Linked DNA regions of Homo sapiens. The protein of the gene in region 1 purifies or fractionates together with the protein of each later gene. This does not show direct contact. Each region holds a gene or a part of one and is shown on either strand. Other genes may lie near its edges.

Region 1 (3,538 bases):
TGGGCATTCTCAGAGTACCCTGTTTGACTCTGATGTCTTTCAAACTAACAATAATGAAAATCCATACACTGATCCAGCTGATCTTATTGCAGATGCTGCTGGAAGCCCCAGTAGTGACTCTCCTACCAATCATTTTTTTCATGATGGAGTAGATTTCAATCCTGATTTATTGAACAGCCAGAGCCAAAGTGGTTTTGGAGAAGAATATTTTGATGAAAGCAGCCAAAGTGGGGATAATGATGATTTCAAAGGATTTGCATCTCAGGCACTAAATACTTTGGGGGTGCCAATGCTTGGAGGTGATAATGGGGAGACCAAGTTTAAGGGCAATAACCAAGCCGACACAGTTGATTTCAGTATTATTTCAGTAGCCGGCAAAGCTTTAGCTCCTGCAGATCTTATGGAGCATCACAGTGGTAGTCAGGGTCCTTTACTGACCACTGGGGACTTAGGGAAAGAAAAGACTCAAAAGAGGGTAAAGGAAGGCAATGGCACCAGTAATAGTACTCTCTCGGGGCCCGGATTAGACAGCAAACCAGGGAAGCGCAGTCGGACCCCTTCTAATGATGGGAAAAGCAAAGATAAGCCTCCAAAGCGGAAGAAGGCAGACACTGAGGGAAAGTCTCCATCTCATAGTTCTTCTAACAGACCTTTTACCCCACCTACCAGTACAGGTGGATCTAAATCGCCAGGCAGTGCAGGAAGATCTCAGACTCCCCCAGGTGTTGCCACACCACCCATTCCCAAAATCACTATTCAGATTCCTAAGGGAACAGTGATGGTGGGCAAGCCTTCCTCTCACAGTCAGTATACCAGCAGTGGTTCTGTGTCTTCCTCAGGCAGCAAAAGCCACCATAGCCATTCTTCCTCCTCTTCCTCATCTGCTTCCACCTCAGGGAAGATGAAAAGCAGTAAATCAGAAGGTTCATCAAGTTCCAAGTTAAGTAGCAGTATGTATTCTAGCCAGGGGTCTTCTGGATCTAGCCAGTCCAAAAATTCATCCCAGTCTGGGGGGAAGCCAGGCTCCTCTCCCATAACCAAGCATGGACTGAGCAGTGGCTCTAGCAGCACCAAGATGAAACCTCAAGGAAAGCCATCATCACTTATGAATCCTTCTTTAAGTAAACCAAACATATCCCCTTCTCATTCAAGGCCACCTGGAGGCTCTGACAAGCTTGCCTCTCCAATGAAGCCTGTTCCTGGAACTCCTCCATCCTCTAAAGCCAAGTCCCCTATCAGTTCAGGTTCTGGTGGTTCTCATATGTCTGGAACTAGTTCAAGCTCTGGCATGAAGTCATCTTCAGGGTTAGGATCCTCAGGCTCGTTGTCCCAGAAAACTCCCCCATCATCTAATTCCTGTACGGCATCTTCCTCCTCCTTTTCCTCAAGTGGCTCTTCCATGTCATCCTCTCAGAACCAGCATGGGAGTTCTAAAGGAAAATCTCCCAGCAGAAACAAGAAGCCGTCCTTGACAGCTGTCATAGATAAACTGAAGCATGGGGTTGTCACCAGTGGCCCTGGGGGTGAAGACCCACTGGACGGCCAGATGGGGGTGAGCACAAATTCTTCCAGCCATCCTATGTCCTCCAAACATAACATGTCAGGAGGAGAGTTTCAGGGCAAGCGTGAGAAAAGTGATAAAGACAAATCAAAGGTTTCCACCTCCGGGAGTTCAGTGGATTCTTCTAAGAAGACCTCAGAGTCAAAAAATGTGGGGAGCACAGGTGTGGCAAAAATTATCATCAGTAAGCATGATGGAGGCTCCCCTAGCATTAAAGCCAAAGTGACTTTGCAGAAACCTGGGGAAAGTAGTGGAGAAGGGCTTAGGCCTCAAATGGCTTCTTCTAAAAACTATGGCTCTCCACTCATCAGTGGTTCCACTCCAAAGCATGAGCGTGGCTCTCCCAGCCATAGTAAGTCACCAGCATATACCCCCCAGAATCTGGACAGTGAAAGTGAGTCAGGCTCCTCCATAGCAGAGAAATCTTATCAGAATAGTCCCAGCTCAGACGATGGTATCCGACCACTTCCAGAATACAGCACAGAGAAACATAAGAAGCACAAAAAGGAAAAGAAGAAAGTAAAAGACAAAGATAGGGACCGAGACCGGGACAAAGACCGAGACAAGAAAAAATCTCATAGCATCAAGCCAGAGAGTTGGTCCAAATCACCCATCTCTTCAGACCAGTCCTTGTCTATGACAAGTAACACAATCTTATCTGCAGACAGACCCTCAAGGCTCAGCCCAGACTTTATGATTGGGGAGGAAGATGATGATCTTATGGATGTGGCCCTGATTGGGAATTAGGAACCTTATTTCCTAAAAGAAACAGGGCCAGAGGAAAAAAAACTATTGATAAGTTTATAGGCAAACCACCATAAGGGGTGAGTCAGACAGGTCTGATTTGGTTAAGAATCCTAAATGGCATGGCTTTGACATCAAGCTGGGTGAATTAGAAAGGCATATCCAGACCCTATTAAAGAAACCACAGGGTTTGATTCTGGTTACCAGGAAGTCTTCTTTGTTCCTGTGCCAGAAAGAAAGTTAAAATACTTGCTTAAGAAAGGGAGGGGGGTGGGAGGGGTGTAGGGAGAGGGAAGGGAGGGAAACAGTTTTGTGGGAAATATTCATATATATTTTCTTCTCCCTTTTTCCATTTTTAGGCCATGTTTTAAACTCATTTTAGTGCATGTATATGAAGGGCTGGGCAGAAAATGAAAAAGCAATACATTCCTTGATGCATTTGCATGAAGGTTGTTCAACTTTGTTTGAGGTAGTTGTCCGTTTGAGTCATGGGCAAATGAAGGACTTTGGTCATTTTGGACACTTAAGTAATGTTTGGTGTCTGTTTCTTAGGAGTGACTGGGGGAGGGAAGATTATTTTAGCTATTTATTTGTAATATTTTAACCCTTTATCTGTTTGTTTTTATACAGTGTTTCGTTCTAAATCTATGAGGTTTAGGGTTCAAAATGATGGAAGGCCGAAGAGCAAGGCTTATATGGTGGTAGGGAGCTTATAGCTTGTGCTAATACTGTAGCATCAAGCCCAAGCAAATTAGTCAGAGCCCGCCTTTAGAGTTAAATATAATAGAAAAACCAAAATGATATTTTTATTTTAGGAGGGTTTAAATAGGGTTCAGAGATCATAGGAATATTAGGAGTTACCTCTCTGTGGAGGTATTGACTTGTAATCTCATTTTCCTTTCAAAAAAAAAAAAAAAAGCTAAGGTGGCTTGTTGGGATGTAAACATGTTTTCAGATGCAGTAAGGTTTAGTGTAGGACAGCCTTCCTGACCCAGTGGCATGAAAACCATTACAGGATTAATAGTTCTCCTACTTCCACAATGTGCCAAAAGTCTGCATCCCAGCATTTTGTTTGCAGGAGAACTGATGCCATTCCTAAGAGCTGGACTCACTGTTTCTCTTCATCACAAGGAGAAGGAGTCCAAACTTTAATCACTCCACTGTATGCTCCCTGAGATAAAACAGTAAAAAATCCGCAGCCATAGTTCACTTAAAACAATTTCAAGCTCACTT
Region 2 (2,962 bases), on another chromosome or scaffold:
CTCCAGATAATGATACTGAGAAATTTATTGGTTGGAAAACTGCTATCTACAGGCCTTCCACTACCTATTTCTTAGTAGATTTTACATTTTTAAAGGGTTGTAGAACACCAAAACAATATATGACAGATACTGTGTTTGGGCCTTAAAGCCTACCCTTTATATAAAAAGTTTGTTGACTCCTAGGCTCTCATTTGCAAGTAGACAAATGAGAAACAGCAAATATTTAAGGAAAAGAGCAACATGAAAAATACACAGCAAACTTAACAAGCAGAAAGAATTCCTGGGGAAACAATTCAGGGGGAAAAAATGACCAAGTATAATTAGTATTATATGGAATAATAATTACTACTACTTATAATAGTTTCATATGTAATCCTCATCATATTATATGTCATAATCTTCAAATATTTTAGAGGTTATTGTACTAATTTTAAAAATGCAAGTTGCTATAAAGAAGTATCTTGGAAATAAACAGTTGTGAAAATAAACTCTGTTTTAGGCTGATTAGTTGAATAAACATGGCTGAGAATCAAATTACTGAGCTAGAATTTTGAGCTGAAGATACTTCCAGAGCTTACAAGAAAAGATAAAAAAGATGGAAGTTACAGTAAAAGACATAGATGTATCTCTTAAAGACATAGAAAACCCAGAACACCATCTGTTTAAAAATTAAACTTCATGAGATTAAGAGCCATATGTATAGAGAATTCACCATTGAATACCCTGCATATATCACAGTGCCAGGTAAATACTATGCAATAAATATTTTTGAATGTATGTATGTATGTTACAGTATAAATATATAGAGGAGTTCCAGAAAGTGAAAAAAGAAGTGAAGAATAGGAAAAAAAAAAAAATCTTCTGATGAAAGATTCATATTAGAAGTCTCCAGTGCTGAGCAAAAACAATGAAAAAGTCATGCAGGATGAATACTGACAAAATATGTGTAATCCCAAGCTTAGAAAAATCTCAAAATGTCTAAAGAGAAACAGTGTACCTATAAGGGGAAAAGAATCACATTGGTCTCAGACTTGTCATCTGTTCGTTGGAGTGCTACAACATACTGCTATTTTTGAAGTTCTGAGGGAGAACTGTTTTGAATTTAGACTTCTATCTTGAGTGAAACTGTCAAGAGTAAGGGCACAGCAAGGACATTCTACCAATTTTAGAACATGCAAGGATTTCAGAAATTAACTCATAAAACACAACCTGCACGGCATGGTATCAAATTATGTAAAGAAAAACTTGGTAAACAAGAAATTGTCAAATTTATAATCATAGCTACGTATTTGAACACAGCGCTTAGAAATTGTCAGATAAAGAGTTCAAAATAGAGGAAACATTTTGAATTATATAGTGCACAAATTTTAATAGCTATAGAATATTTGTTTTCAAATGCCATGAAAAAATGACCATGAAGCAAAAACCACAATATTTTTTTGTTTGTTGATAGGTAGGAATTCAGGGTCCATCCTGTCATCACAATGCAATGAAACAAAAAATTAGCAAGTGGATAGCAATAAATCAATTTTTAAAAATCAGACAAAAGAAAACACTGTCCTTGTAATGCTTGCATTTAAAAGGAAATAAAAACTTATGAAAGAGAATCTTTATTTTATTTAAGCAGTTCTAGATTATACAAAATGTTGAAACATCTCAATTTGGTCTCTGAGGCTAGCATAATCCTTATTCCAGAAAATTGTTCATCAAAGATAGCTATAGACCAGTCTCACTTACGAACAAATGTAATTTGTTGAAACTGGTCATGTTGAAAAAACATGACCAATTAAATATCCCAAAATAATGTGTCATGGTAGAGTAGGGTTTATCTGAAAACTGCAACATGACGATTATGTAACTCAATCCTTTAGGAAATTTATTACTTTAACTTAAAAAAAAATACCATAAGCTTGATAGATGCTCGAAAAACATTTCCTAAGATTGAACACATTCCAGATTTAAATTTTTCAGGCTGAGAATAGAATAAAGCCTTTGTAACTTGGCTAAGGACTAGGAAGGTCTTCCAGAAAGCTTCATCAAACATCTGCATTCAAGTCAGGATTAAGACAATAATGACTGTTGCCTATGCAACAATCATTTAACCCTAAGAAATAGAAGTATTAGGAAGAGAAAACATAGTCCTTATTTTGAGCAGTGTGATTGTAGAGACAAACATCCAAGAGAAACAGTTGAAAAACTATTAGAAATGACAAAAGGTAGTTTTGTTTAATAGTTCACCATGAAAATCTGTACTATATAGAAAATCTGTATATAGAATATAGCATTGGCCAATTGGAAATGTAATTTGAAAATCCCATTTGCAGCAAAACTTGGAACTGTATACTGTCTAAGAATAAACAATGGGAAAAATGCAAAATCCTTATGAGGAAAATGATACATTTTAATGGAGGAAATAAAATGCCTGAATAAACACTGTGTTCCTGTCTGAAAAATATTGTCTGTATGCCAGTTATCTTCAGATAATTCATAAATTACCATTCCAATTGTTACTTAGAGTTAGTAGTGGTGGCGAGAGAAAGTTAAAAATACCAGCTTCAGGAATATTGAAGTGTCTTTCTCATATATATAAGTTCAGATAGACAAGGCAGGGCTGGTGTCACCCTTCAAGGTGTCAGAGACTGAGGCTCCCTCTATCTTGTTACTTTGCTGTCTTTAAAACCTTATCTTTGGCCGGGCGTGGTGGCTCATGCCTGTAATCCCAGCACTTTGGGAGGCCAAGGCGGGCAGATCATGAGATCAGGACATCGAGACCATTCTGGCTAACACGGTGAAACCCCGTCTCTACTAAAAATACAAAAAATTAGCTGGGCGTGGTGGCGGGCGCCTGTAGTCCCAGCTACTCGGGAGGCTGAGGTAGAATGGTGTGAACCCGGGAGGCAGAGCTTGCAGTGAGCCGAGATCATGCCACTGCACTCCAGACTGGGCGATAGAGGGAGACACC
Region 3 (3,538 bases), on another chromosome or scaffold:
TACCATGTTTAAACAGAATTTGGGACATACAGTAATTCAGTTGGGAGAACTGAAATGTCAGTTCTAGTTTAGTATATGTATCTTTGAGTCCCTTTTAAAATTTTTCTTTGTAGGATATGCCTTTCACCTGTGAAGGTATCACCCCTGATATCATCATCAATCCCCATGCCATCCCCTCTCGTATGACTATTGGTCACTTAATTGAATGCCTTCAAGGGAAGGTAAGAGATGTTCTTCAAAAATATAGATTCTAAGCTGATGCTTCTTCTAAAACTCTGATAGGTGATTGCTCTCACATTTGAGCCAGGGTACTTTGTAAAAAGCTAGTGTGAGACTTACTTTTCTGCTTTCAAATTGCTTATGATTCTGCCATTTTTTTTGGCAATTTGCAAAGTTATGGACAAGTCAGAATTTTTGTGAGATATACTACATTCAACTAATACATATGTGATTTTCCTTTTGACTAGTTCTTTTCTGTAGATGAACAGTTAATTTGTTGATGGAGAGTTCAATGTGAACTTAATAATTTTATAGTTCTATTATCAGCTCTGCATACATCTTTTGGTGGAGGTTTTCTATTTTTAAGTATTCTTTTAAGGTAAAGTGGTAATAGTCTAACATATGGATGGCTTGGTTTTAGGGCATTAAAATGTCATTTTCCTTTGAGCCATCTGAAGTACTTAGGAGTCTCACTCTTTTTGTACCTGATCCCATGGATCGACTTCTATTTGAATACTTATAATTGAGTTTTTCTTTTTTAAGCAAGTTTATTTGTTCTAAATGTTTTGTGTAAGGTTATAAAATGAACCTTATATATCACAGCTTTCCATAACATAGATTTTGAGTTCAAAATCTTTGAATTTTAAAATACTTAAAATAATACTTTCAAATTTTAAAAGTATTTAAAAATTTTTTGAATGCATTTTTATTGATATGACTTTTAGGGGGAGACAGACTGAAGCAACATTTTAAAGAGTACTTTTTTTTTTAAAAGGTATCGGCTAACAAGGGTGAAATTGGTGATGCCACTCCATTTAATGATGCTGTTAACGTGCAGAAGATTTCTAATCTTTTATCTGATTATGGCTATCATCTCAGAGGAAATGAGGTATATTTGCTCTTATAGTAGTAATTTGCCACTTGTTTTTTTTTGTATGTGTGTAGTTTTATTCTGAAACAATGTAACCTTTTATTGAAGTATCATATGTGCACATATAGAAATGTACAGCTTGATGAATTTTCACAAAGTAAACACAGCTGCATGACTAACACCAAGATCTAAAAATGTGAAGGTAGCGACTGAACCTTTTTTAGTCGCTACCTTTCCACTCCCACCCCAAGCTAATTACTCTCTTAATTGCTAACATTATAGATTAGTTCTGTGCTTTAATTTTTATATAAATGGAGTAACACAATATATACACATATCTTCTTTGACGTTGTTTAATTTTTAGGTCTACACTTCAAAATCTGTGTTTGTTGCAGGTCCTGTACAATGGGTTCACTGGTCGAAAAATCACATCACAAATATTTATTGGCCCCACTTATTACCAGCGTTTGAAGCATATGGTGGATGATAAGATTCACTCTCGTGCTAGGGGACCTATTCAGATCCTCAATAGACAGCCCATGGAGGGTAGATCTCGGTAAGAACTGTATCATCATCATTATTATTAATTAACCTTATATTATGAAAAATGTCAACACACCAAAATGGAGATAGTGGTATAGTGAATGCCTGTGTGCCTGTTACCCCCATTTCAACAATTATCGACTGATGGCCAGTCTTGTTGCATTCATCTCTGTCCTTCTAACCTTTGATATTATCATCATGTTTTAAAGGCAGAGTCTCACTCTGTCACCCAGGCTGGAGTGCAGTGGCATGCCCACAGCTCCCTGCAGCCTTGAACTGGGCACAAGCAATCCTACCTTAGCCTCCCAAGTAGCTAAATTAATATTGTCTCTTAAGTCCTTTTTTGAATTTATTGGTTGTCCTCCAACCTTTTTTTTAACTACAGGCATGTGCCACTACACCTTTAAAAAAAAAATTTTTTTTTTGTAGAGGCTAGGCGCAATGGCTCATGTCTGCAATCCCAGCACTTTGGGAGGCCAAGACGGGTAGATCACCTGAGGTCAGGAGTCCAAGACCAGCCTGGTCAACATGGCAAAACACCGTCTCTACTAAAAATACAAAAAATTAGTCGGGCATGGTGGCACACACCTGTAATCCCAGCTACTCGGGAGGCTGAGGCATGAGAATCACTTGAACCTGGGAGGCGGAGGTTGCAGTGAGCCGAGATCACACCCCTGTGCTCCAGCCTGGGTGACAGAGTGAGACTTCATCTCAAAACAAAAAACAAAAAATTTTGTAGAGACGGGGGTCTCACTATGTTGCCCAGGCTGGACTTGAACTCATGGCCACAATCCTCTAGCCTCAGCCTTCCAAAGTGTTGGAATTACAGGCGTGAACCACTGCACCCAGCCCTCTTGATTATTTTTAAGCAAAGCCCAGACATCATATAATTTCTCCTATAAATTTTTCAGTGTATATCTTTAAAACAATGGTTCTCAAATGTCTTGATCCCGGGAACCCAAAATGCTTTTGTTTTATGTGAGTTGTATTTATTGATATTTATCATATTAGAAGTTAAAGCTGAGATTTTAAATTTATTGTTTTAAAAATGCTAATAAGCTCATTACGTGTTAACATAAATAACATGTTTTGGCTGGGCGTGGTGGCTCACACCTGTAATCCCAGCTACTCGGGAGCCTGAGGGAAGAATTGCTTGAACCCAGGAGGTGGAGGTTGCAGTGAGCCAAGATCGTGCCACTGCACTCCAGCCTGGGCGACAGAGTGAGACTCTGTCTCGATAACAAAACAAAACAAAACAAAAAACCATGTTTAATGAAAAATATATCTATTTTCCAGATGAATTTAGTGACAAGAATAACATTGGTTTACATTTTTGCGAATCTCTCTAATGACCTGGCTTAATAGAAACAGCTGGATTCTTACATCTACTTCTGCATTCATTCCATTGTAGTATTTTATTTTTTATATTTAAGTATATGAGGAAGTTCTAATTTCATGCAAATAAGTGGTTGGAAAGAGAGGAATATTTTGGCTTTTTTTTTGTGAGACAGTCTCACTCTGTCACCCAGGCTGGAGTGCAGTGGTGCGATCTCGGCTCACGGCAACCTCCGCCTCCCGGATTCAAGCAATTCTCGTGCCTCGGCCTCCCAAGTAGCTGGGATTACAGGTGTGCGCCACCAAGCCCAGCTAATTTTTGTATTTTTTGTAGAGCCAGGGTTTCACCATTTTGCCCAGGCTGGTCTCAAATGGTTGGCCTCAAGTGATCCGCCTGCCTTGGCCTTCCAAATTGCTGGGATTACAGGCAAGAGCCACCACGCCCAGCCCACCCCTTCCCTTTTTTTGAGACAGTTTCATCCCTGTTGCCTAGGCTGGAGTGTGGTGGCACAATCACAGCTCACTGCAGCCTCTACTTTCCAGGCTCAGGTGATCCTCCCATCTCAGCCT
Region 4 (3,538 bases), on another chromosome or scaffold:
GCCCTTTGTCTTCAGCTACCGGAGTGGGTAGGGAAGGACCGTCATGGGGGCAGGGCTATGTGCGTCTGAACTCAAGACTCCTTGGGCAGGGCTTGCTGTGGCTGTTGTGGGGGATGGGAGTGTGGTTCCCAGGTCAGTGGAGCTATTCCAGGAAGATTATGGCTGCCTCTGCTGTGTCATGCAGGTTGTCAGGGAAGTGGGGGAAAGCTGGTGGCAGGCCTCACCCAGCTCCCATGCAACCCAAAAGACCAGTTTCACTCCCACCATGTCCCTTCAAACAGCACCAAGTTTGTTTACAGGCAGTGGGCAGGAAGGGCTGAGAACTTGCCCCAGGCTACCAGCCTCTCACCTGTGAGAACAAGTAGGGCTTTCACATCTCCCAGCCTGTGGAGTCTGCACACCAGATTCACACCCTCCCTTGAGTTCTGGCCAGGAGACTTCCTGTTCATTTGGAATTGTTACAAAGTTCAGCTGGCCTATCATATGGTCTATCTCGGAGACTGTTCCATGTGCTGATGAATAGAATGTATATCCTGCTGTTGTTGGGTAGAATGTTCTGTAAATATCTGTTAAATCCATTTGTTCTAGGGTATAATCAAAATTATATCAAATATTCTCTCAGACCACAGTGGAATTTTTTAATTTCTACTTAGATTTCATTGTTGACCTAGTGATCATTCAGGAACAGGTCTTGATGACCTGTCTAGTGCTGTCAGTGGAGTACTGAAGTCCCCCACTATTATTGTGTTGCTTTCTATCTCATTTCCTAGGTCTCGTAGTAACTGTTTTATAAATTTGGGAGCTCCAGGTTTAGATGCATATTTATTTAGGATTGTCATATTTTCCTATTGGACTAGTCCTTTTATCATTGTATAATGTCCCTCTTTGTCTTTTTAAACTGCTGTTGCTTTAAAGTTTGTTTTGTCTGATATAAGAATAGCTACTTCTCACTTTTGGTGTCCATTTGCATGGAATATGTTTTTCCACCCTTTACCTTAAGTTTATGTGAATCCTTATGTGTCAGGTGAGTCCCTTGAAAAGCAGATACTTGGTTGGTGAATTCGTATTAATTTTGCCATTCTGTATTTTTTAAGTGGAGCATTTAGGCCATTTACATTCAATGTTAGTATTGAGATGTGAGGTACTATTCTATTCATCGTGCTATTTGTTGCCTGAACAGCTTTTTTTTTTTCATTGTCTTATTGTTTTATAGGTCCTGTGAGATTTATGCTTTAAAGAGATTCTATTTTGGTATTATTTCCAGGATTTGTTTCAAGATTTATCGCTCCTTTAGCAGTTCTTGTAGTGCTGACTTGGTAGTGGTGAATTCTCTCAGAATTTGTTTGTCTGAAAAAGACTATCTTTCCTTCATTTATGAACCTTAGTTTCGCTGGATACAAAATTCTTGGCTGACAGTTGTTTTGTTTAAGGAGGCTAAAGATAGGACTCCAATGTCTTCTAGCTTATAGGGTTTCTGCTGAGAAATCTGCTGTTAATCTGATAGGCTTTCCTTTATAAGTTATCTGATGCTTTTGCCTCACTGCTCTTAAGATTCTTTCCTTCATCTTGACTTTCGATAACCTGATGACTATGTGCCGGGGCAATGATCTTTTTATGATGAGTTTCCCAGGTGTTCTTTGAGCTTCTTGTATTTGGATGTGTAGGTCTCTAGCAAGGCTGGAGAAGTTTTCCTTGATTATTCCCTCAAATATGTTTTCCAAACTTTTAGATTTCTCTTCTTTCTCAGGAACACCAATTATTCTTAGGTTTGTTTGTTTGACATAATCCCAAACTTCTTGGAGCCTTTGTTCATTTTTTAAATTCTTTTTTCTTTGTTGGACTGGGTTAATTCAAAAGCCTTGTCTTGAAGCTCTGAAGTTCTTCTACTTGCTCAATTTTATTGCTGAGACTTTCCAGTGCATTTGCATTTCTCTAAGTATGTCCTTCATTTCCCAAAGTTGTGATAGTTTTTTATTTATGCTATCTATTTCACTGGAGATTTTTCCATTCATATCCTGTATGATTTGTTTGATTTCTTTAAGTTGGGCCTCACCTTTCTCTGGTGCCTCCTTGATTAGCTTAATAATTGACCTTCTGAATCCTTTTTCTGGCAATTCTGAGATTTTGTCTTGGTTTGGATCCATTGCTGGTGAGCTAGTATGATGTTTTGGGTTGTTAAAGATCCTTGTTTTGTCATATTACTAGAATTGTTTTTCTGGTTCCTTCTCATTTGGGTAGACTGTGAGAAGGAAGATCTGGGACTCAAGGGCTGCTGTTTAGATTCTTTTGTCCCACAGGGTGCTCCCTTGATTTGGTGCTCTCCTCCTTCCCCTAGGGATGGGGCTTCCTGAGAGCCAAACTGCAGTGATTGTTATTGTTCTTGTGGATCTAGCCACCCAGCAGAGCTACCAGGCTTCTGGCGGGTACTAGGGAGTGTCTGCAAAGGGTCCTGTGATGTGATCCGTCTTCAGCTGTGGATACCAGCACCTGCTCCAGTGGAGGTACAGGGGAGTGAAGTGGACTCTGTGAGGGTCCTTAATTGTATTTTTTTTAAGTGCGCTGGTTTTGTGTTGGTTGGCCTTCAGCCAGGAGGTGGTGCTTTCAAGAGTGCATCAGCTGCAGTAGGATAGGGAGGATACAAGCTTGCTCTGGGGTCAGGCAGTGGGTAGGGCCATAGAGCTCCCAAGAGATTAAGTCCTTTGTCTTCGGCTACCAGGGCCAGTAGAGAAAGACCATCAGGTGGGGGTACCATTGTGTGATTCCCAGGCCAATGGAGTTATGTTCCCAGGTGGATTATGGCTGACTCTGCTGCATCACACAGGTCACTAGGGAAGTGGGGGAAAGCTGGCAACCACAGGCCTCACCCAGCTTCCACACAGCCTGCAGCCTAAAAGGCCAGACTCACTCCCACCGTGCCCCCACAACAGCACCAAGTTTATTTCCAGGCAGCTGATGAGCAGGGCTGAGAACTTGCCCCAGGCTACAGGCCTCCCAGCTGAGAAAGCAAGCTGACTCACAGTTCCTTGCCTTTTCTGGTATGTTTCTGCGGTAGTTCTTGGAGCAAAAGTTCATGATGGGAGTCTCCACATGCCGCTCTGTCTGACCAAGTGGGAACTGCAAGTTAGTCCTGCCTCCTATCTGCTATTTTTTCCCAGACCTAACATTTATTTTTAATATTAAACCAACTTTGCATTCTTATAATAAACTCAACTTGATTGAGCTATAATAGCCTTTTTATATAATACTGGATTTGGTCCTCCTAATATTTGCCTTAGAATTTTTGCACATATTTTCAGAATGAGTGACATTAGCGTATGAATTGGTCATGGTCTCATCATAAATCACATGGTACAAATTAAGTAATCTGAGGAAAGTTTAATTATAGGACTGTTTTCCAAAGCGTGAAAATGTGGTCAGAATGAAGGAAACCAAAGGAATGATACACTAATCATAGTTTGAGAGCCCTCACCACCCCTAGACCTCAAGGAAAAAGGTAGGAGTGGACCACAAGGTCTTGTACCAAGGAAGTGCTGCTTGT
Region 5 (2,514 bases), about 11 Mb from region 1:
GGCAGTAGAACCAATTTGATGTAAGAGTGACCAATTTGATGTGAGAGTAAGTTAGAAGAGTGAATGATGATCCTTAGATTGCTAGGAAAGAGGGCCCAGCGGGTCAGCTGTGTTAGTGTGTGGAGACTAGGGCTAGTGACACCTCCGGGTCAGCTCTGTGCCCAGGAAGCACTTCAACCTGTGTGGCAGGAGGGATAGCAATAGGAAGCACTTCAATTCCCCACAACTCAGACACCCAGACGGGAGGGCAGAGGACCAAGGCTGAAAGGAGTAGAGAGCCTGAGAGAGAGATGAGACTGAGGGGAGCTAGTGGTGACTCAGGCTAACCAGTCAGCGGGAGAGACCTAGACCGGGGGGCAGAGAAGGCGGGAGAACTGGAGAGAGGACCTAGCCTAGGAGGAGAGGGAGCAGGCTGAGAAGGAAATGCTCTGGGTAGGAGAGACAGACTCCAAGGAAAAATCCAACAAGTAGAGGAGGATTTGGGATTGGAAAAGCTGAGGTCCAGCTGGGAGAGCTGAAGAGGGATAGAACAGAAGAGGTTGAGCCATGGGGTTTCAAGTACGCGGAAAGGAGCAAAGATGTTAGGAAAGGGTCGAAAGGGCACATCCCGGAGTCCCAGGTAGCAGGACGAGGATGGCAGGGGAAGAGCCAAGGAAATGAAGCGGAGATGTTGAGTGGCTCCCGCCTTGCCTGGCCTTACCTGTGCGCAGCCAGTTAGCAGCCGCAGCCACAAGCACAGCTACTTCAGGACTGAGGCCAGCAAGCTTTTCCTATAAATGGCCATATAATAAGTATTTTTGGCTTTTTGGGCCATATGGTCTCTGTCTCAACTACTCAATTCTGCCTTTGTAGTTCAAGAGCAGCCATAGATGATACAGCCATTAATGGGTCTGGCTGTGTTCCAATAAAACTTTATTTACAAAAATAGTTGGCAGGCTAGATTTGACCTGTAGGCCACAATTTGCTAGCCTTCCCTCTCCCTGCTCTAGAATAGTAAATACAGGAGTAGGAACAGACTTTTGATAGGGTGTTCCCTATCAGGGCACAGGGAAAATGGTGAACTCAGCTTCATACATACTAAGTTGACAGATTGACTGTGGAACCTTCTGGTAGATTCTTCACAGGCAGTTAGCCTTTGAGTCTGCAGACTGGGAAAAAGACTGGGAAAAAGTTGAGAGAGGGATGGAAGAGTCATTCATGTGGAAGGGAAGTTTGAAGTAGATGTTTTTGTGATGCTCCCAAGGCAAGGCCACCCTGGGAATGAATTAGAGTAAATTTAGGGCCAAGGACTTAACCCAGAGGATCCAGCAGTTAAGGAAGGACCTGTGAATAGAGAAGAAATAACCAGAAAGGTGTGGGGCCTGCCTTTAAAGGAGAGAGACTCATGTCCTGGAAGCTAAGAAAAGGAAGTTTCTAAAAGAACAATGTGGTCATCAATATCAAATAGGTCAGGTAAAACAAGAGCTGAAATATATGCATTGCATTTGAAAGTAAGGCTGCCATTGGTGAACCAAATGACAAGAATTTAGGTGGAATGACAGGGGAGAAGCCTGAGTGTAGTGGGCTGGGGAGTCAATAGATGGTGAGAGTTATAAACAAGAAGTATAGGCTCTTTTTTTCTTTCTTTTTTCTTTCTTTCCTTTCTTTCTAGAAAAGGCAGTAGCTAAAAGGGGATTTAAGGTAAGAAGAAGGGTTTTGTTTTGTTTTGTTTAGGTTTGTTTTTAAAATACTGCTGTTTTTGTTGGAGAGGCTTAAGAATATAAACATGTTCAGAGAAAGGCACTAATGGAGAAGTTGAAGATAGAGAATTGAGATAATAGGTGGAACAGCATTTTGGAGGAGATGGCTGGGAGTTACCTGGAAGCCCAGGAGTTCACTAGACCTGAACAGCAGCTATTTTTTCTTCTTTGCCCTTAGACTGAACAAGAGACCCTTCTGCTGAGTACAGCCTGTCCTCCCACCCAGGAACACCCTCTGCCTAATGACAGGACCTTCCTGGGAAGCATCTTGACAGCAGTGGCAGATGAAGGTTAAAGGCCCTGGGATTTGGGGGTGGGAAAGTTGTGACGCTGCTCCTGATATCTTCTGCTGTTGAAGATGTCCACCAGCGGGCTTGTCTATCTTACCCTGGCTTCCATTATGGTAGACCCCTGCCTGGATCATCAGAGGGGCCCTCTCCCATTATTGGTTTTTCTCTTAGAGCCAGAATCAACTCCTGTGCCCTTGCTTGGAAGTGACAAGAGTGCTTTCACCCGAGTAGCATCAATGGTTTCCCTTCAGCCCGCAGGTTAGGAGGGGCTCCAGGGATCCTGCCTCATTTCTAGAAAATCTGGTGGTGATGAGTAAAGACGAAAGCAGTGAGAAGTGCTTTGCTCTAAAAACCTCAATTCTACTTGGGCTCATTTTATTTCTGCCTTCTGGGATCTGTAATGTTCCAGACATTCAAATCCTGTGGGTGGGGAACACGGATAAGAGTTGTGGAAATGATGGCTATACACTCCTTCCTTCCAGGGC
Region 6 (3,538 bases), on another chromosome or scaffold:
TGGGGCCTCTGATTCTGGAAAGAGTAATTTTGGATTTCAGGGTCTCACAACATTTTATGGAGTTCTAAAACTGGAAGCGACCTTAGGGACTACTTTCTATAACTTCCTTTTGACTAAGTGAAACAGGCCTGGGAAAGCTTGACTCGTTTAACCAAGGTGTATAGGTGAATAAGCAGAGGAGTTGTACCACCAAACCAGTATTTATGTCAAAACTAATACTGCTTTGAGGATGATTTATGCTAAATTATCTTCTGATGTTATCCCCTTTCCCCCAAGGCAGCCAATGTTTTAACTCTCCCAAGCAGACAGAGTTATGTGTGGCTGTAGCCAAATTTGGGTACAATATGGAACAGGTGCTTGGCTGTTCTTGGGTGGTTGGTGAGTAGAGTTTCCTAAGCTTTAGTTATTTATGTCCTACCTCCCTCAAGATTTCTACCCTACCCCTGTACCACCTGTACTTTTATTCTGAAGTTTTCTTTAAACTAATTTTTTAAGAAACTTTGTGTTTCCTGGGCAGTACTACACGTGGAGTCATGGATTTATTGAAATATATGTATATATAAAATTTATATCAAATCATGTTTACATACTATTTTTAATCTATTTGATATTACATGCACACACGTATATGATTATACATAATAAAATGAGACCATTACTATTAACACTTTAAAAGTTCATCTGTGTATCGAAAACAACAGTTGTGTTCCATTAGAGATAGCTGTGGTGGAAAATGCTGATTTAATGGAGGAAGTGTGGGCTTCCAAGTTGGGCCAACCTGGATTTAGCTTTTTTTTTTTTTTTGCAATTGTGTGGCCTTGGGCAAGTTGCATAGCCTCTCATTTGTAAATTAGTTTGTGCACTTCAGAAAAAATTTCAAACCAACATTTGTGTGAGAAAAGCCCTCCTCCTGGTAGAAGTTATTCTTGTCACCATAAATGTAATTTTTATTGTTGTTGTTAACCAGTGGTAATATATTTCAGAAAAGGGCTCCCAGAAGGTAGGGTGGAACCCATGAACGAAGACCCATGTGGAGAAGTATGGGGGTGGGGCGGGGGGGAGAATATGGAAGCTTTAACCTGCCTGATGGATTGGTTATATTTTTTTGAGAGCTTGCTGTGCATCAGCATCCTGTAGGACTTCATTATATATTGTGTTATAATACTTTGCTTCCTACAAACAGACTGTGCTCAAGCCTTTAAAGCAGGGAATCAGAAAACTGGCAGTCATCCTTGAGACCTCCTCCTTGCTTATACCCCATTCATCCATCAGCGTCTCTACATCCATGCGCACATCCTGTTCAGTTCCAAAATATATTTCCAATCCACCAGATGCTCTCCAGTTTCACCAGTATGCTTGGTCTCCCTTCTGGCTTCAGGGTGACTTCTCTTCCCCAGGGCTCCTGCATATTCTGTTCTGGTCTTTCTGCCTGGACACCTGTCTAGCCACCCCCTCCCACTTAGCATTCCACTCAGCTCTTCTCACCTTAGCCTGTGGTTAGAAAGGTAGGCTCTGGTGCCAGTCTGCTTGGGTTGGGACCCTGGCTGTCCTGTTTATGTGCCCCTTATTCTCCCTATACTTCATTTTCCTTCCATATAGAGTGAGAGTGATAATACTACTTAACTCATAGGGCTGTTGGAAGATTACCTAGATAGTATATGTAAAAAGCACTTAGAACAGAATCTGTCATAGATTCAGCCCCTATATGTTTGCTGTCATGAACTACTGTCATGCCTGCCCCTTCATCATTCAAGTCTCAGGCTTTTCTGATATATCATTTACAATTATATACTTATTTGCATCTTGCCATCTCCCCCTAATAGGTCAGTTTCATGAGGGCATGGATGAGGTCTGTTTTGGTATGGCAGAAGTACCTGGCACCTGCACAATTAGTTCCTAGAAGGCTGAGGGCACAAATATTTATTGGAACATGAATAAACTTGGGATGAATAAATTAAAAAGGGAAATCCGGTGACTGAGGGCTGTTGGGGAAAGTCAAGGTTAAAGCTGAAAGTATCCTTTGCATCTATCTGCTTTGGAGCCTAGGTTAAGCCTGAAAGTAAAATTAAGCTCCAGAAGTAGGAAGGAAGAGGAGGTTTACTCTGGGACAAAAGAGACTGAAACAGGGCCAGGCGTGGTGGCTCATGCCTGTAATCCCATCACTTTGGGAGGCCGAGGCGGGTGGATCACCTGAGGTCAGGAGTTCGAGACCAGCCTTAACAACATGGTGAAACCCCGTCTCTACTAAAAAATACAAAAATTAGCTGGGCATGGTGGTAGGCGCCTGTAATCCCAGCTACTTGGGAGGCTGAGGCAGGAGAATCTCTTGAACCCAGGAGGCGGAGGTTGCAGTGAGCCGAGATTGTGCCATTGCACTCCAGCCTGGGGGACAGAGCAAGACTGCATCTCAAAAACAAAACAAAACAACAACAACAAAAAACAACAGAAAAAGAGGCCGAAACATTTGAAGAGTAAATATGTGCAGAAAATCAAATTTGTTAGAAAAATGGGTTGGGGCAGTAATGAGATTTCCGGGAATCAGGAGCTGTAGAGCCCCACCAGCAGGGACCTACGGGAATAATGGCCTGGTGTGCAGTGCAGGGGCTGCCCGAAGATATACACAGCATGACTTAGGAGAGCTGGTGGTGATGGTGGTGTCTGCATGCGGATATCCCAGAGTGGTGGTTCTTCAACTTCAGAGGACATTCAGATTACCCTGAAGGCTGGTTGAAACAGATTGCTGGGTCTCTAAGATTCAGTAGGTCTGAGGTCAGGCCTCAGAAATTGCACTGGTGACAAGATCCCAGGTAATCTGATGGTGCTGGTCTAGGGCCCCACTTCGAGAACCCTCACCTAAAGGGAAGACATCCAGTTCTGCAGGGGCTAGAGCATTCTGCTTGATACGAGCAGGGCTGGATTAGACTTCTATGTATGGCTGAAGTTGCAGTAGTTTGGTTTAACAGCCAACCCAGCCAAGATTTGGTGTTCTTGTCCCAGAATTTGTGCCCTCTCTTAGTTCAGATCTAAGGGAATGGACCAGGAAGTCTCAGTCCCCCTCCAGTGGCTTTTTCCATTACACTTGAAATAAAATGCAAACCCTTTACCTTGGCCTTCAAGGCCCTACCAGTCTGGCCCTTGTTCACCTCTGCAGTCATTGCCTGCAGCCAAACAGCCTGGCTTTGAGTTCTGGCTACTCTGTTTACTGCCTGTTTGACTCAGCTTCCTCAACCATGGAATGAGGTTTGTATTTCTTCCAACTTCATAGAGTTGCTGGGAAGAGAAAATGAGCTAATGTATGCAAAGTGTGTAGAATCGTGCCTGTCACACAGGCAGCACTCAACACAGGTCAGCCACTATTAGCTGATCCCTTATTAAAGGATGCTGGGGGTCTCCTGTTGTACTTAACCATAACAGCCACAAGATCCTGCCTTTCAAGATCTGGGCTTTGAGTCACCCCTTCCAACTTGCTGTGTGGTGGGACCACAGGCTGCCTCTCTCTTCTTCCAACAGGCCTAGCTTCTTTGTGTATAGGTTCCTG
Region 7 (3,538 bases), on another chromosome or scaffold:
GGAAGGGTCTTGAGAGATTGTTGGTGCAGCCCACTGAGTTCTCCAAATGAGAACCAAAACCCAGAGGTTTGCCTGGGGTTGCTCCACCAGTCGGTAGCAGAGCTGAGACTGGGGTCCTGTGCTGCAGGTGCTCAGGCCAGAGCTCCTACCACCATACAACACTGTCTGCCATGCTAACTGCCCTTTTTCCTTCTTGTCCTTGGGTGAGGCTCAAGGAGACCGTACAGCCAAGAGCTATGTAAGTGTGGCTAGTTGGAATACACAACAGGGTACAGCGCTGGTTGCAGGGAGTTTGAGCCCTTCCCTCTGTGAGGTGCCCAAGCAGCTGGTAGGAGCCCCAGAGCTCAGTCTAAGCTTCTTGGGTTTATATTTAGAGACAAGAGGCCAGCAGCCATTTGGAAGTCTAATTAGTCCCTGGCGGGCTGTGGTCTACCCTGCACTCCCAAGCCCTACCCAGACTCCAGCCCAGAGGCTGTGGGCTCCCACTACAACAGCACTAGCCACATTCTTGAGTAGAAATCATGGTAGATACTAACTCAAATCTCTCCTCCTCCCTGCTTCTCTCCCTCTGTCCAGCTTAGCCCACCCCAGGCAGCCCAAGAAGAACAGTGCCTCTCTGAGCATGAGTCGTCCGCCCCCATCCCCACCCCGCCCCTGTGAGTCGTTTCAGGAGACAGTGTGGTGTAGTGGAAAGTGTCTTAGCCTGGGGGTCAGAAGATTTAGATGCTAATCTCAGCTCTGCCACTGAATGGATTATGTGATCTTGGGCAAATTCCCTTCCCAGTTTGTGAAATGGGCTTGCACCAAGTGATCTCTCCAGGCTCCTCCAGCTCTGGGATTCTGTGGTTCAGTGATTCTGACCAAGGCCAGAGCCGTTCCCTCCCCTTGGGGGCAGAAATGCAGGGTCTGGGATCGGATCCATTCCCAGAGACTCTCCATCTGCAGCCATCACCACCTCCAGGAAGGGGCTCCCTGAACAAAGGAGCCCCAAGGAATGGGGCTTTTGCCCAGTGATGGCAGGTTTCCTGGCCGTTGTCAGGAAAATTGACCCAAAGTTTACCCCCTGGGCTGCGATTCCCTGAAAAAGGTGGCAGCAACAGATGTCAGAGAGACCACTTCTCAGCCTACTGAGTTTCTGCCTGGTCAGCTGGAAAGGAAGCCCTCCTAGAGAGGGCTTGGAGATGACTTTGGTTGGGGGCAGTGCACAGCCTGGGAGCCCTGGGGGGGTCTGATTGAGCTGCCCAACCTTGATACTCTACCAAGCCCCTGGCCTTTGTCTCTGGAATGGAGCACGAAGGATGTGGTGATTAAGGAGGTCAAGTAAGGAAAGGGCTTAGAGTTCAGTCTTATGCCTCTGAGGTCATGGGTTCGTGAATTGAGGGTCTCAGTACCCTGACCTTTCATCTATTACACGTTCTAAAGTGTGTTTTTAACCGAATTCTTTCATGCTGTGCCCTTGGGTGGACACTGAATGTGGATAGCCATCCTCATTTGGCATATGGGGAAACTGAGGCTCAGGTAGGCTCAGTTGACCCCCACTCCCATACCTCTCTATTCCTAGCTGGGGATTTGTGCTGCTTTGAGATTTGCAAACTCTGAGCAGAGGTTGGGGTGGCAGTTGACCAAGCAGAAGCCAGGTCATGTAATAGAGCAGGCCTGGGTGCCAGGGGACCTAGGGATGTCTCCTCTTTTGAATGGGGTATAACTGCTACCACCTGATGCCTTGCCTGCCCTTACTGGGCCTGGATGGTTGGAGAGGTTGTAGTGAGGTAGTGAGGATCCCAACAGCCATCAGGGTCCGGCAAGCCCTTCCTCTTCACTCCAGGGCTTGCTAGGAGCCAGCAGAGGTGTGTAGTGCAGGCCTCCCAGCCCCTCACCAGCCACACACGTTTGTAGCCGGAGCTGCAATACCGCCCTGGTGGCCACAAGCCATGCTGCAGCCTCTGGCCCATCTGCCCTCACAGGCTCTTCGACTACCGGGGCCGTCTGTCGCCCGTGCCAGTGCCCAGGGCGGTCCCTGTGAAGCGACCCCGGGTCACAGTCCCTTTGGTCCGGCGTGTCAAAACTAACGTACCTGTCAAGCTCTTTGCCCGCTCCACAGCTGTCACCACCAGCTCAGCCAAGATCAAGTGTGAGTGACTGTATCATATTCCTAAGTAATTTGCATTTTTATCATTAGCAAAATAATAGAATCACATTTTTTACATTGGAACATAGATAAAACAACAAGTCTTCCACAGTTCTGCTGCTCTAACACAGCCAAGTATTTTCATGCATTTCTAAGAGGAAACAGCTGATGTTTTAGGAGGAGGGGTTGTGTTGGGCACAGAGAGTCCAGTGCTGGATATGGTGCCCAGTGAAGAAATGGTGCCATCTTTCCTCTAGTAAGGATAAGGACAGGTCTACCCAGGCCCATTACTCCACATTCACTCTGGTACACACATGCTGCTTAACTAATCACCCAGGAATTCAGATTCCAAAAGACACATGTTCTTGCTCAGGTGCACACAGAAGAGCACACCACACATACACACCTGTGCTCCTGTCTGTCTTTGGTCCCTTTCAGAGTTGAGAGATCAGGAGAAAAGATAGCCAGGTTCAGAAGTGTGTGCTGTCACTGTAGGGATGGACGCCAGGTAGTCTAAGGAGGAGACCTTTTTCCTAAGCAGGGAAAAAACAAAACAAAACAAAAAATAACTGCTTTCCTGGTTGAAAGAACAGGGCTGAGGTTTTGTGCTAGTGTCAAGCCTCCAGCCCCCTAGGTGACAGCCCTGTCCCCCCTCCACTCCCAGTAAAGAGCAGTGAGCTGCAGGCCATCAAGACGGAGCTGACACAGATCAAGTCCAATATCGATGCCCTGCTGAGCCGCTTGGAGCAGATCGCTGCGGAGCAAAAGGCCAATCCAGGTCAGCCTCTGAGGATTCTCACCCACCTCCATGACCAGGGCACAGGGCAGAGCATGGGGAAATAGTACATGGGAGAGAGGAGCTAGGGTGGCCCTGCAGATCCTGGACCACCTGCACTCACCATGCTGAGGCCAGCTTCCGCTAAGGTGCTGCCCTAGACAGCTACCCCAGGCTGAGTTTTATTCTCCCCTCCTCCACCCCTTCCCCTCAAGATGGCAAGAAGAAGGGTGATGGAGGTGGCGCCGGCGGCGGCGGCGGTGGTGGTGGCAGCGGTGGCGGTGGCAGTGGTGGTGGCGGTGGCGGTGGCAGCAGCCGGCCACCAGCCCCCCAAGAGAACACAACTTCTGAGGCAGGCCTGCCCCAGGGGGAAGCACGGACCCGAGACGACGGCGATGAGGAAGGGCTCCTGACACACAGCGAGGAAGAGCTGGTGAGGGCCTGGCCAGGGGCACGACTGGGACTCGACTGTGCTCCTACTCTCAGGAGGCCAACAGGGGAATGGGCAGCCTGAGCTGGTTGCCCCCACTGTGAACTTCCTGTTCTCTCCTTCCCAGGGGTTCTGGTCCTGGGGGAAAGAGGGAAGAATGAGCAGGGGGCACTTGCCTATCTCAGACACCATCAGAAGTCCCACT

What was found.
Region 2: the proteins of MED1 (region 1) and ZNF326 fractionate together in Homo sapiens (co-fractionation; one large-scale study listed by BioGRID). This does not show direct contact.
Region 3: the proteins of MED1 (region 1) and POLR2B purify together in Homo sapiens (affinity purification with mass spectrometry, with the first as the bait; one large-scale study listed by BioGRID). This does not show direct contact.
Region 4: the proteins of MED1 (region 1) and RPAP2 purify together in Homo sapiens (affinity purification with mass spectrometry; 3 studies listed by BioGRID and IntAct, with this or other methods). This does not show direct contact.
Region 5: the proteins of MED1 (region 1) and SPAG5 purify together in Homo sapiens (affinity purification with mass spectrometry; one large-scale study listed by BioGRID and IntAct). This does not show direct contact.
Region 6: the proteins of MED1 (region 1) and MED12L purify together in Homo sapiens (affinity purification with mass spectrometry; 3 studies listed by BioGRID and IntAct, with this or other methods). This does not show direct contact.
Region 7: the proteins of MED1 (region 1) and RALY fractionate together in Homo sapiens (co-fractionation; one large-scale study listed by BioGRID). This does not show direct contact.

The regions. Positions count from the first base shown.
Region 1 is NC_000017.11:39,406,245-39,409,782, reverse strand, and holds part of MED1 (mediator of RNA polymerase II transcription subunit 1), read left to right. Parts: coding exon 1-2,308; 3' UTR 2,309-3,538. UniProt on the Homo sapiens protein: Component of the Mediator complex, a coactivator involved in the regulated transcription of nearly all RNA polymerase II-dependent genes.
Region 2 is NC_000001.11:90,033,101-90,036,062, forward strand, and holds the end of ZNF326 (DBIRD complex subunit ZNF326), read left to right. Parts: 3' UTR 1-2,433; downstream 2,434-2,962. UniProt on the Homo sapiens protein: Core component of the DBIRD complex, a multiprotein complex that acts at the interface between core mRNP particles and RNA polymerase II (RNAPII) and integrates transcript elongation with the regulation of alternative splicing: the DBIRD complex affects local transcript elongation rates and alternative splicing of a large set of exons embedded in (A + T)-rich DNA regions.
Region 3 is NC_000004.12:57,023,892-57,027,429, forward strand, and holds part of POLR2B (DNA-directed RNA polymerase II subunit RPB2), read left to right. Parts: intron 1-113; coding exon 114-221; intron 222-994; coding exon 995-1,108; intron 1,109-1,485; coding exon 1,486-1,646; intron 1,647-3,538. UniProt on the Homo sapiens protein: Catalytic core component of RNA polymerase II (Pol II), a DNA-dependent RNA polymerase which synthesizes mRNA precursors and many functional non-coding RNAs using the four ribonucleoside triphosphates as substrates.
Region 4 is NC_000001.11:92,326,535-92,330,072, forward strand, and holds part of RPAP2 (putative RNA polymerase II subunit B1 CTD phosphatase RPAP2), read left to right. Parts: intron 1-3,538.
Region 5 is NC_000017.11:28,579,524-28,582,037, reverse strand, and holds part of SPAG5 (sperm-associated antigen 5), read left to right. Parts: intron 1-1,917; coding exon 1,918-2,029; intron 2,030-2,200; coding exon 2,201-2,287; intron 2,288-2,514. UniProt on the Homo sapiens protein: Essential component of the mitotic spindle required for normal chromosome segregation and progression into anaphase. Required for chromosome alignment, normal timing of sister chromatid segregation, and maintenance of spindle pole architecture.
Region 6 is NC_000003.12:151,088,632-151,092,169, forward strand, and holds part of MED12L (mediator of RNA polymerase II transcription subunit 12-like protein), read left to right. Parts: intron 1-3,538. UniProt on the Homo sapiens protein: May be a component of the Mediator complex, a coactivator involved in the regulated transcription of nearly all RNA polymerase II-dependent genes.
Region 7 is NC_000020.11:34,073,910-34,077,447, forward strand, and holds part of RALY (RNA-binding protein Raly), read left to right. Parts: intron 1-1,964; coding exon 1,965-2,131; intron 2,132-2,792; coding exon 2,793-2,906; intron 2,907-3,118; coding exon 3,119-3,336; intron 3,337-3,538. UniProt on the Homo sapiens protein: RNA-binding protein that acts as a transcriptional cofactor for cholesterol biosynthetic genes in the liver. Binds the lipid-responsive non-coding RNA LeXis and is required for LeXis-mediated effect on cholesterogenesis.